Linked DNA regions of Homo sapiens: region 1 is linked to region 2. Evidence: fine-mapped expression QTL. A gene starts in region 2. The other region holds a variant in brackets. All regions are shown on one strand. Distances are from middle to middle.

Evidence for each region. PIP is the estimated chance that this variant, and not a neighbour inherited with it, causes the effect.
Region 1: its variant is the best candidate, but not a certain one, in a credible set for the expression of GLMN in testis (GTEx, PIP 0.80).

What each region holds. Positions count from the first base shown.
Region 1 is chr1:92,064,194-92,069,578 of GRCh38, reverse strand. It overlaps the pseudogene LPCAT2BP. Among named protein-coding and RNA genes, the nearest start is that of SETSIP, 8.5 kb to the left of the region's middle. The variant CTGTTA/A (reference allele first, on the strand shown) is at 2,029.
Region 2 is chr1:92,296,532-92,301,916 of GRCh38, reverse strand. It overlaps GLMN (glomulin, FKBP associated protein), which reads left to right and starts at 2,930. Exons shown (of 19, transcript NM_053274.3): 1 at 2,930-2,992; 2 at 3,888-3,956; 3 at 4,388-4,513. The coding sequence starts at 3,918. It overlaps RPAP2 (RNA polymerase II associated protein 2), which reads right to left and starts at 2,858. Exons shown (of 13, transcript NM_024813.3): 1 at 2,771-2,858; 2 at 1,678-1,723; 3 at 327-441. The coding sequence starts at 2,843. RefSeq lists enhancers at 2,445-2,674, 2,895-3,364, 2,936-3,832 and a silencer at 3,096-3,433.

The DNA of each region.
Region 1 (5,385 bases), 230 kb after region 2:
TCTAGTAGCATCCCTAAAAATGTGTTTACTTGGTTATGTTTTTGTAAAGTTGGCAAACTTTGGTCAAATGTTACCTCATATCTGGTGCTACTGAGTAGCTACAACCATCTTTAAGATTCAGTCACAGTGAAACTAAGTAGGGGATTCAGTGATTAGGGCTGGTGGAGTATGTTTATCAGTTCACATTCACTTCTATGTCTAGATAGGTTGTTGCTCCCTGTCTGGGTATGGGAATGGTTTCCAGGAATACTTTGCTGATTCATCCTGCATGGTGACATGAAGGGGTAGGGCCCAAGGGTCACATCACTATGTGAAGATGTCACATAGTGACAGGTATTGGAAATAAATGTGTAAATAAGTAGAGGCTTCAATTCTCATTGATGCCTTATTGGAACAAAAATAATATTTTCAGTAATGCAGAACATGTTAATTATAAACACATTTTTTTGTGTTTTGATTAAAGTCATACAGAATGAAATTTGTCAAAATTCCTATATTTATGACCTATGTTTATGATATTTTTACAGGTTTTCAGAAATTTTAATCTGTTGTGATTTCTCATTCTAAATAATCACTTCTATACTTTAAAAAGGCAAGCAGGGAACAGGCATACCATATATAATTGTTGCAATGTATTCCCCACACTATATCTTCCTAATATTTATTTTATCTTGAAAAATAAGAAAATGTGGCCAGGCACGGTGGCTCACGCCTGTAATCCCAGCACTTTGGGAGGCCGAGGAGGGTGGATCACCTGAGGTCGGGAGTTCAAGACCAACCCGACCAACATGGAGAAATCCCGTCTCTACTAAAAATATAAAATTAGCCGGGTGTGGTGGCTCATGCCTGTAATCCCAGGAGTCTTGGGAAGCTGAGGCAGGAGAATCCCTCGAACCTGGGAGGCAGAGGATGCAGTGAGCCAAGACTGCACCATTACACTCCAGCCTGGGCAACAAGAAAGAAACTCTGCTTCAAAAATAATAATAATAAATAAGAAAAATAAGAAAATTGAGGCTACTTTTCAAATGACTAAAGAGGTATTTATATAGCTCTTTTCTTTTTTTGGAGGAAATGCAAATGGTAATTTAATGTTTTTATTTACTGTCAGTGTAGCTCTTTTTTTTTTTTTTCTTCTTTTTTGAGATAGGATCTCTGTCGCTCAAGCTGATACAGTGGTGCAATATCTGTTCACTGCAACATCTGCCCCCCGGGCTCAAGTGATCCTCCCATCTCAGCCTCCTGCGTAGCTGGGACTACAGGTGCACGCCACCACACTAGGCTAATTTTGTATTTTGTTTAGAGGTGGGGTTTTGCCATGTTGCCTGGGCTGGTCTCAAACTCCTGGTCTCAAGCGATTCTTCCACCTCAGCCTCCCAAAGTGTTGGAATTATAGGCGTGAGCCACCATGCTTGCCCAAGTGTAGCTCTTAATGTGATATTTTTTTCTGCAACAGTGAGGGACAGGTGATAGGCTTTAATGTTCCTCTGGCCTTATTTTAGCATTAAATACAATAAAGGCACTAACTAGAACCCTGCTGGGTGAACAAGGTTTATGACTAGATCACTTGTTCTTCTACATTTAGGTCACATTAAAACAAATGCTATCTTAAGAAAGAAGAAAAATAGATACTATTAAATCTAACTGAAATATTCCTCAAGCATATTTTAAATATCATAATTGTCTATGCCTCTTAGAGTGAAAACTATTGAGTTTTTCCTCAAAGAGTAATTCTTACTTCAATCATCATTTCTACCTAGAAGATACTTTCACTGTTTTCAGGGCTAACTTGTAACATTTGAATACAGTGATTAAAACTGTACTTTTTGGGGTAATGAATATATATAGGCTGCCTGGAGGTCTAGGTGTGAATTAAATAAGTTGGGATATGCTGGATGCTTCAGGGCAAATTTCTTAAATCTCTCATATGAAATGTACACTGATTTCTGTCCAGCTATTTCCTGAAGAGCCTGGAAACATCAAGATCTGGCACTCCAAAAGCTGCCTAAAGTATAGCAGCGAACTCCTGTT[CTGTTA/A]TTAAACCATCCGCATCAAGATCAAAAAGCTTAAAGGACATTTGCAGACTCTTTTCAGACCTATTACATACTCTCTGAAGTCTATGTTGCCATCATTATTCCTGCCGAAGTGGGCAGGGGGTTGTCTCAAGGGCTCTGAAATTGGGAGTTTTAAATAACTTGAAAATTCTTCAATTCCTGTCTTCCCTCCTTTTGAGGCAACTGCAATTGCAGCATATTCATCCAAATGCTGATGAATGTTATCCCTGTCTAACTTCAACTTCTGGCTAATGTTTGTAAATTCCACCAAACCAGCTTCTACGGGTAGTTGAAGGTTACCTGCGGAGATCATCACTCTGCAGCCTTCGTAAGTGTGCCCTGTCCCAGGCACCCCTAGAGCATTTGCCATGTTGATGTGTGCTGTATTGGCAAAAAGGATGGGGTCTTTTTTTTCTTCATCATTTGGGATATAAACAGGCATAAACTCAACTTCTACCCTGGTGAAGAGTTGACTGAGTGTCAACATACAGGCCTGTAAGGCTGTGAATCCCTGCCAGGTCCAGATTGCCATGTCCAGGGTGTTTGGGTACCTGAGCAGCACTGGCTACACAGGAACACCTGGACAGAAGGCCCCTGGTTTAAAAGTGACTAGACGGGAGCGATTGATGCACACACCTTCTAGGAAAATCAGAATCTGTGGCCACTTCTTTCCAAATGTCACTCACTTCAGGATTTCATCCTTAGTATTCTTCCTGGAATGGGAGTCTTCTCAAATCACAAGCACCAGCTGTGTTGACAGTAGGAATTTCCCAGCCAATGGGATCTGCACATTTTGACTTGCAGAGACCACTGAGGGTAACCCTGCCACCACACAGGGGATTGAGTCAAAGAAAGTGGACCGTGGTGCTGTAACGAAGATAGGGGCCTTGTCTTGGGTTGCCTTTTTCCCTTTCACTTTAGCCAGGAACCCAAGTAAAAAGAAAGCCACCTGAAGCATGAGCTTGAGTACTGGTTTCACCAGTTTTTTTTCTCCAACTCTTGGCAGGGTTGCAGGATTTGAGCAGGATAGCCAAAGGTGGAAAGCATGGCCACTGGCCAGATGAAGAGGAAGGCGATGCAGGACATTCGTACCCACGAGGATGATGCAGGTCCAGCACCATGCACAGAGGCGTGTCTGCTGAGGATACAAGGACTTGATTAGCTCCTGCGTGATCCCAGACTCCTTCGCCTCCAACTCAGAGTCTGTGGATGCAGAGCCGTGAAACCGACTTAGCAGACCCAGGCTGTGTGTAGCCTGGATTTGGGGGCAGCCTTTGACATGCACCCTTCCCCACATCCAACTGCTTTTTCTGTTTGCACATAATTAGAACTGTTAGAGGAAATTGTAGGTTAATAGAAAATGCTGCATTACCTTTAAAATCAGAAAAATCAAAGATGGTAAATGATGTAACAGGAGAATTTGAATCATATCAACAGCACATTCTTTCTTTCTTTTTTTGCAAACATCTTGCTTTTGACATATGCCTAATAAATTATTTTCACATAGCAATTTCTGATGTTAAATTAGGCATATATTATATACTACTAGGGATATATTAATTTGAATAGATGAATATTATTAATAATTACAACTTTTAATTTAGGTGCCATTACCTGTTTTTATTTACTGTGAGCTGCTTTGGCAGCTAGTAAATCAAATTCACTTACTTGCCCTACCAATAGATTTCTACAGAGATAGTAATAACTGTTTATCCTAAGAGGTTTAACTCAAGATGGCACCCTTGAGGCTTTATATCTGTTACAAGTACTTTTCCATATCTATTAAAAATTAGAGTACATTCATTGTAATAGGCCGGAATTGCCCATGGAATGTTTGATTGATAAATTCTTAAAATTAGTCCACATGAACTTGTCAGCTTCCTAAACTGACATAAGTAGCAACAACAACAAATCTTAAAATCACCTTTGTCAGTAACAGGTTTTTATTAAAATAAGTCAGGATTACTTTACTGTGTCAACACGTCCCATTCTTTCCCTTGTTGCTGCCCTTCTGGAGGGATCAAGAGGGAAGCAACAAGTTGGTATGAACCAGGATTTTTCTATACCTTGTGGCATTTGCAACTCTGACAATGCTCTATAGAATATTCCTATGTTTACTAATGGCTAATTTGAATTCCTTTTCCCTCCCAAAATTAAAAGTCAAATTGTAGGTTCCTGAGAGATATGGCCATCTATTGAAACACACCAGATTACTGCTGAAACAGGAAGAGTGGCGTGGATACCACAAGTCTGCTAAATGGTATCTGGTGTAAGTGGGATCATGGGCTTTACCACCAGATGGCTCTAGGTCAGATCCTAGCTCCAGAACTTACACTATGGGCATTGGCAAAGTTACACGTTAAATCACATTTTTACTATTTATAAATTGGTGATACCTACCTTGCATGTTGTTACGAAGCAATGTGTTGTATAGAGAATTGGATTTTTGTTGTAAATACAACTTGCTGTGATACAGTAATGAGAATTCTTAGGGACATTCTCCTTTGTTCTGTCACGATCAGAACTATGCTTAATGAGGGAAGCAATCCTTTCACCAATTTAGGGCTTATTTGTTCTGTGATGTGATTTGGCAGTGTTACTGGTTGCCTCCCATGTTAAAGGGGAACAACCCAAAAGAATGAGTAGTAGTCCCCTGAGTTGGTATTGTTCTCTATTCTGTAACTCTTTTCAACTCTTACTTATAATGTTCATTTCTACTCTTGAACCTTTATTTAATTTGACTGCATTCTATGTATGCGTCTTTTTTTTTTTTTTTTTTTTTTTTTTTTTTTTTTTTTTTGCTCTTGTTGCCCAGGCTGGAATGCAGTGGTGCAATCTTGGCTCACTGCAACCTCTGCCTCCCAGGTTCAAGCAATTCTCCTGCCTCAGCCTCCCAAGTAGCTGGGATTACAGGCATTTGCCACCATCCCCGGCTAATTTTTGTATTTTTGGTAGAGATGAGGTTTCACCATGTTGGCCAGGCTGGTCTCGAACTCCTGACCTCAGGTGATCCACCCATCTCAGCCTCCCAAAGTGCTGGAATTACAAGCATGAGCCACCACACCCAGCCCTTAAGGCTTCTTATGGGAAAGTTCTATGTTACCACCTTATCTTTCTTTTATATTCCCCACCCCCCCGCAGTGCCTAGCAGTGTGCCAGATATATTATTTATTCATTAAGCAAATGTTTGAGTGCCTACAATATGCCAGGCCCTTAGTCTAGACTTGAATATGTATCAGTTAATAAAACAACAAAAAAATCCCTGCCCTGTGGAGCTTAGATTCTAGTGCATATAAGATGTGTAATATTCAATTCTCGTTGCATTGAATGGGGT
Region 2 (5,385 bases):
CAGGCTAATTAACATATCTATCACCTCACATATTTATCATTTCTTTGTGGTGAGAACATTTGAAATCCACTCTTATTAATTTTGAAATATACATTACGTGTCATCACCTTGTTACGTACTTATTTTTCATTAGTGCATTTTAAAGTCATTATACAAGGAATGCATGATAGTTGTTTATTTTTAAATGCATGAATTATATGGATTGTTATCTGCATCTAATGACTCAGAACAAATTCAAAGATTCTAATAATGCAAAGAAGTTTCATGCTGCACAGATTTAAAGATGTTATACTACAAAACTAATAATTTGTCAACTTAACACATACACACTCCATTAGGAACTCTTCTGTAATATTCTCCTCTAAAAGCTGTTCAACAATATGTAGAGCTTTTCTCTCAAATTCAATCTTCTTTCTCACAGCTGCTTCTAGTTCAGCTTTCCTAAAATTTGAAAGAGAAACTTAATCTACTTAAAAGCTTCATGTCCAACATTCCATGTTTTAAAATACAATACTAACCTAACTCACTATTTTGCCACTTAAATTTAAATATATTTAAAAAATTTTTTGAATAAAAATATTTATTTCTTTTTAATTGTAGAGACAAGGTCTCACTATGTTGCTCAAACTGGTCTCGAGCTCCTGGCCTCAAGCAACACTCCCACCTCAGCCTCCCAAAGTGCTGGGATCACCGGCATAAGCCACCACATCCGGCCAAATTTCTGTTTTCTAATGCTGTTACTTTTGATCCAATACTTTTCAAAAAGGAAACAAGCTACTTTTTGCACTGCACATACATAAGTCTTTATATACTCTTTGTATGGTTAATGTCTACTTAGCACGCAGGTCTCAGCATAAGGCTTTCGCTGAAAACTCACAGCCAACCTCCCTGCCACCCACCTCCAACTAAATTAGACTTCGTTATTCCTTCTCGTAACATCACAGTCTTTTCCTTCATAGTGCTTATCACAATTTGTAATTATGTATTTGTTTATGTTAATTAACTAATTAATTTATTATTATTTATTCCTCTGTTCCACTAGGCAAGAACTGTGTCTATTCTGTTCACCATATCTTCAGAGCCTAACACAGGTCCGACATATCTTATACTCAATAAATAATTTTTGAAAGAATGAGTAAATTAAGACCAAAGCCAATATAAGATTAGTGAGTCTTCACAAAATAAAAATCATAGCTACATATGCTTTTAATCCCCTTCACATTCTACTCCTCTTCTAGAAACTCTGTGTGATATGTGGTAATATCTTGCCTTTTTAGAACCAGAACTAGTACAAGACAGCTTTTTAATGAAAATCTGGACTTGATGTAACAAAGAACAGAAAAGGTTTCTTGGAGTGACAGCGAAACTTGGAGAGTGAGTCTCTGGCATATAAAGCAATAAAAGGAGAGTGTACCTGAAGCGGTGAAAAACAAACACCTTCTACAGACACTCATTCCTTCACTAGCAGTCTGAGTGCTTAGTTTGGTTTTCTTAAAGCCTGGAGTAGAGGAATGTAACAGTCTATGTGAGAATTTATAGGCCTTCCCAGATCTTTCCCTTCCCTCTCATGATAATTTTCTCTAAAAAAAAAAAGGTAACCATTATTGTTTTAAAATTGGTACAAGTAATACAAGATAAGTAGATATGCCAATGTAGTTGTCCATGTAGCTGTCATACCTTTTAGAAGCATCTTCTTGTTTCAAAGTACTTGTCTGTTTAGTACCTACAATAAAAATACAGTCATGTGCTACATAATGACATTTCCGTAAACGACGGACAGCATACAGACAGCGGTCTCATAAGATTAAAATACTGTATTTTTACTGTACCTTTTCTATGTTTAGATATACAGTTGCCTACAGTACTTAGTACAGTAACATGCTGTGCAGGTTTGTAGCCTGGGAGCAATAGGCTGTACCATATAGCCTAGTGTGTAAGTAGGCTGTACCATCTAGGTTTGTGTAAGTGCACTCGATGATGGTCACACAAGGATGAAATCGACTAACAACTTATTTCTCAAAATGCATCCCCGCAGTTAAGCTACACATGGTGGCAGTAGGTCAGGTCTACACAAACACATTAGGTACAAGATAGATTCCTACACAAATAACAAACTGTAGACCACCTTTTCTTCTTTTCCACATATTTTATGTCCAATCGTGTGTAAATCAAAATGAAATAGGAAGGGAGAGCAATTTGTTTTTGCAAATTGATTACTGTCTAATTTTTCTTGGTTAAAATGTATCTCTTTGGGGATTGAATTTTCTTCTGTATCATAGTTGCTTAATTAACCACTCCTGAAAATCTGAGATCTGGGTACTTTTAGGGGAAACCTCTCTCCGTCTGCCAAACGTCCTCTCTGGGGGAAGAGGGGAGTCCGGCACCTTAAAGAACTGGGCACCCAAGCAATCTGGAAAGGAGGACCGGTCCTAGGTTCAAGGCCAGCTGCCAACGCTGCCCTAGTCACTTGCCCCGAAACCCGGGGACCCCAGGCCTGGGTTCCCGGGGCCTCCACTGTCCTTTGTCTCAGAGGCTGGGGCCACAGTCCGCGTGAGGGAAATCTTGGAACACTGGCGTAAAGGGGTGAGGGGCGGCCAGGAAATCTTTCCCAGGAGGTGCGGACGGCGGTGGGAAGCTTTCGGCCTACTCTACCTGGGAGAACCCCTCCCCTGAAGCAGCCTTTCAGGAGCGCCCGCGCGCTGCGGTCTATAACTCGAGATCGGGGCCCAGCTTTCAGGGTCCAAAAGTGGGAAGAGATCCTTGCTCCTACCTGCGGCTTTTCGAGAGCAGCGGGGAGCCCCGGCCTTGCGGCCGGCAGAAGACGGCCCAGCGAAGTCCGCCATGGGGGAGAGTAGTCTGCCGGACGGGGACACGCTCCGGCGTCTCGCCCCGAGGCCCCGCCTCCCTACGCGTAGCGCGGGGCGGGGCCAGAAGAGCGGGCTAAGACGCCGGAGGAGGTGGCGGCGGCTGGGAGAGGCGAGGGTTCTGGCCGGTAAGTGGAGTTGTGGAGAGGTTCAGGGTGGCCAGGGCTCGCGGTTGGCCGTGAGCCGCGGCGGACTTGGTGCTGCGGGCCGACTAGGCCACGCGAGGTGGTGGAGCCTGCCCACCTAGGCGAGCAGGAATCGGAAGACATGGCTTCCTCTGATGCAGCCCGCACGCGCGCTGGGGTGTTCACTCGCCTTCCAGCGCGCTGCCCTGAGGACCGGGCTGACTCGCGCCCCTACTGAGGGCTTGGGGCCGAGCCTTGCCGCCAGGAGAAGCGATGGTCTCCTCCTGAAGGCCGCCGTTGTCTTGTCTCCGTGTGATACAGTGATTTCACTAGCTGGATTGATCACTTTGGGGACTGCAACTCCTAGAGAGAAATGGAATGGAGGGCATCTGAATCTTCACCCCCTATAGATAAGCTTGTGTTGCACCCCAATTTTTGTGAGGTGAGACATTAAAAATGAAAAATCCCCTGATGATTAGAATTTTGATTTCAGGTCCACCTTTTGGAAATTTTTTTTCAGAAAAGAAGTGCTTTGCTTTTTAAAAGCCCTTTAGTTCGTATATGCCTCGCCTCTTGGGAGTGCTCGAGAGGTTTTTTTTGTTTTTTTTTCCTTCAAAGTAGCTTTCAAAACTATGCTCCTAGAAAACTTAAAACATGCAATAAGGGCTTCTAAAAAAACACTTTATTTTCTTAGGCAAACATACTAAGATTCAGTAATAACATTTCAACTTTAAAACTTTACATTTTCTCCTAGCATGCTATTGGACCAAAAAACACAACAACAAAAACTTTCCATTTTCTTTATTGTATTTACTAATAATTTATCACACTGAAACATAACTTTTGAATACTTAAGTGTAATATCACGGATAGTTAACAGTGTGTTTTGTATTTGTAGATTTTAGCATCGAAACTAGGAGAAATAAGAATGGCTGTAGAGGAACTTCAGTCTATAATAAAGAGATGTGTAAGTATTAATTTTTGTAAAATTAAATACCTTTCAAAATATGGGAAGGGCACAGATTGTTTTTAATTATATTTGTGGTCACTCAAATTGTTTATCTTCTTTAATCCTTGCTTTTTTTGACCTGTAAAGAGCATGAGTGGGGGAGGCAGATTGGATTATTTCTCCAGGTGACATACTTATCTAAATAACCTTTTACATTTTAATCCTGATCCTTTTCATAGATTTCACTGGTACAGTAGATTTCAAGGTCACTTATTAAAGTATTTATTAGGGTAATCCTAATTTTGATACGTGTGTTATTTACGTTACATTTATCTAGAATTTAAACAGATTTCCTTTTTTCATAGATAAATCAAGAAGTTATTGTATTTAATTTTTATTTGCATATACTTTTTTTTGTTTGTTTTTTGGGTTTTTTTTTTTTTTGCCAGCAAATCCTAGAAGAGCAAGACTTTAAAGAAGAGGATTTTGGCCTATTTCAGTTAGCTGGGCAAAGATGCATAGAAGAAGGGCACACAGACCAGCTATTAGAAATTATTCAAAATGAAAAGAATAAGGTGCGTACAATCTTGGTGTTTACTTTTCAGTCTTGGGAAGAGAATAATCACATGATGCTATTCATCCAGTCATTTATCCATCAAACATTTAAGAATCTACTTAAATTTTCACAGTAGGGAACTGAAAACAAAAAAAGAATTAGAAATATTTAGGCCAGGCGCAGTGGCTCACGTTCGTAATCACAGCGTTATGGGAGGCCAAGGCAGGCAGATCACTTGAGCCCAGGAGTTTGAGACCAGCCTGGGCAACAGAGTAAGACCCTGTCTCAGAAAAAAAAAAAAAAAAAAGAAAAGAAACAGTCATATACTTGAAGGTTTTTACCATCTGGTCAAACATAAACATGTAAACAACTAACAATAATGAGGCAAAATAAATAATTGCTATAGTTGAAGTAAAGAGTTTTTAGAAGAAACAGAATTACTTCTGGTTTAGGGAGTCCAAAAATGGTGTTTGAGTCATTAATTTACAATGAGAAATATACATATCAAGCAGGCTAAATATTCATTTTGGGTGATCAGCCCATTCTCCTCCAGCCAAATGTGTATGGAAAACCAAATTTTAATTAAAACAGTATTTTATGTGCATAGAATCAGAACAGGAGGAAAACGATATGTCATTATACTAGCCAGTATCATCCAGTTACAATGGTTTGAGAAATCATCCTCCACAATGGAAAAGGATCTTATTTGTGGATCAGGAATAACTTTTTCCTGGGACACTGTGTTGGCAACATCCTGCCAAATTTTGTGTCTTTGGATACTCCTTATAAGGAAGACGGCTATGGTTTGGCTCTGTGTCCCCACCCAGATCTCACCTTGAATTGTAATAATCCCTGTGTGTCAAGGATGGGACCAGGTGGAGGTGATTGAAT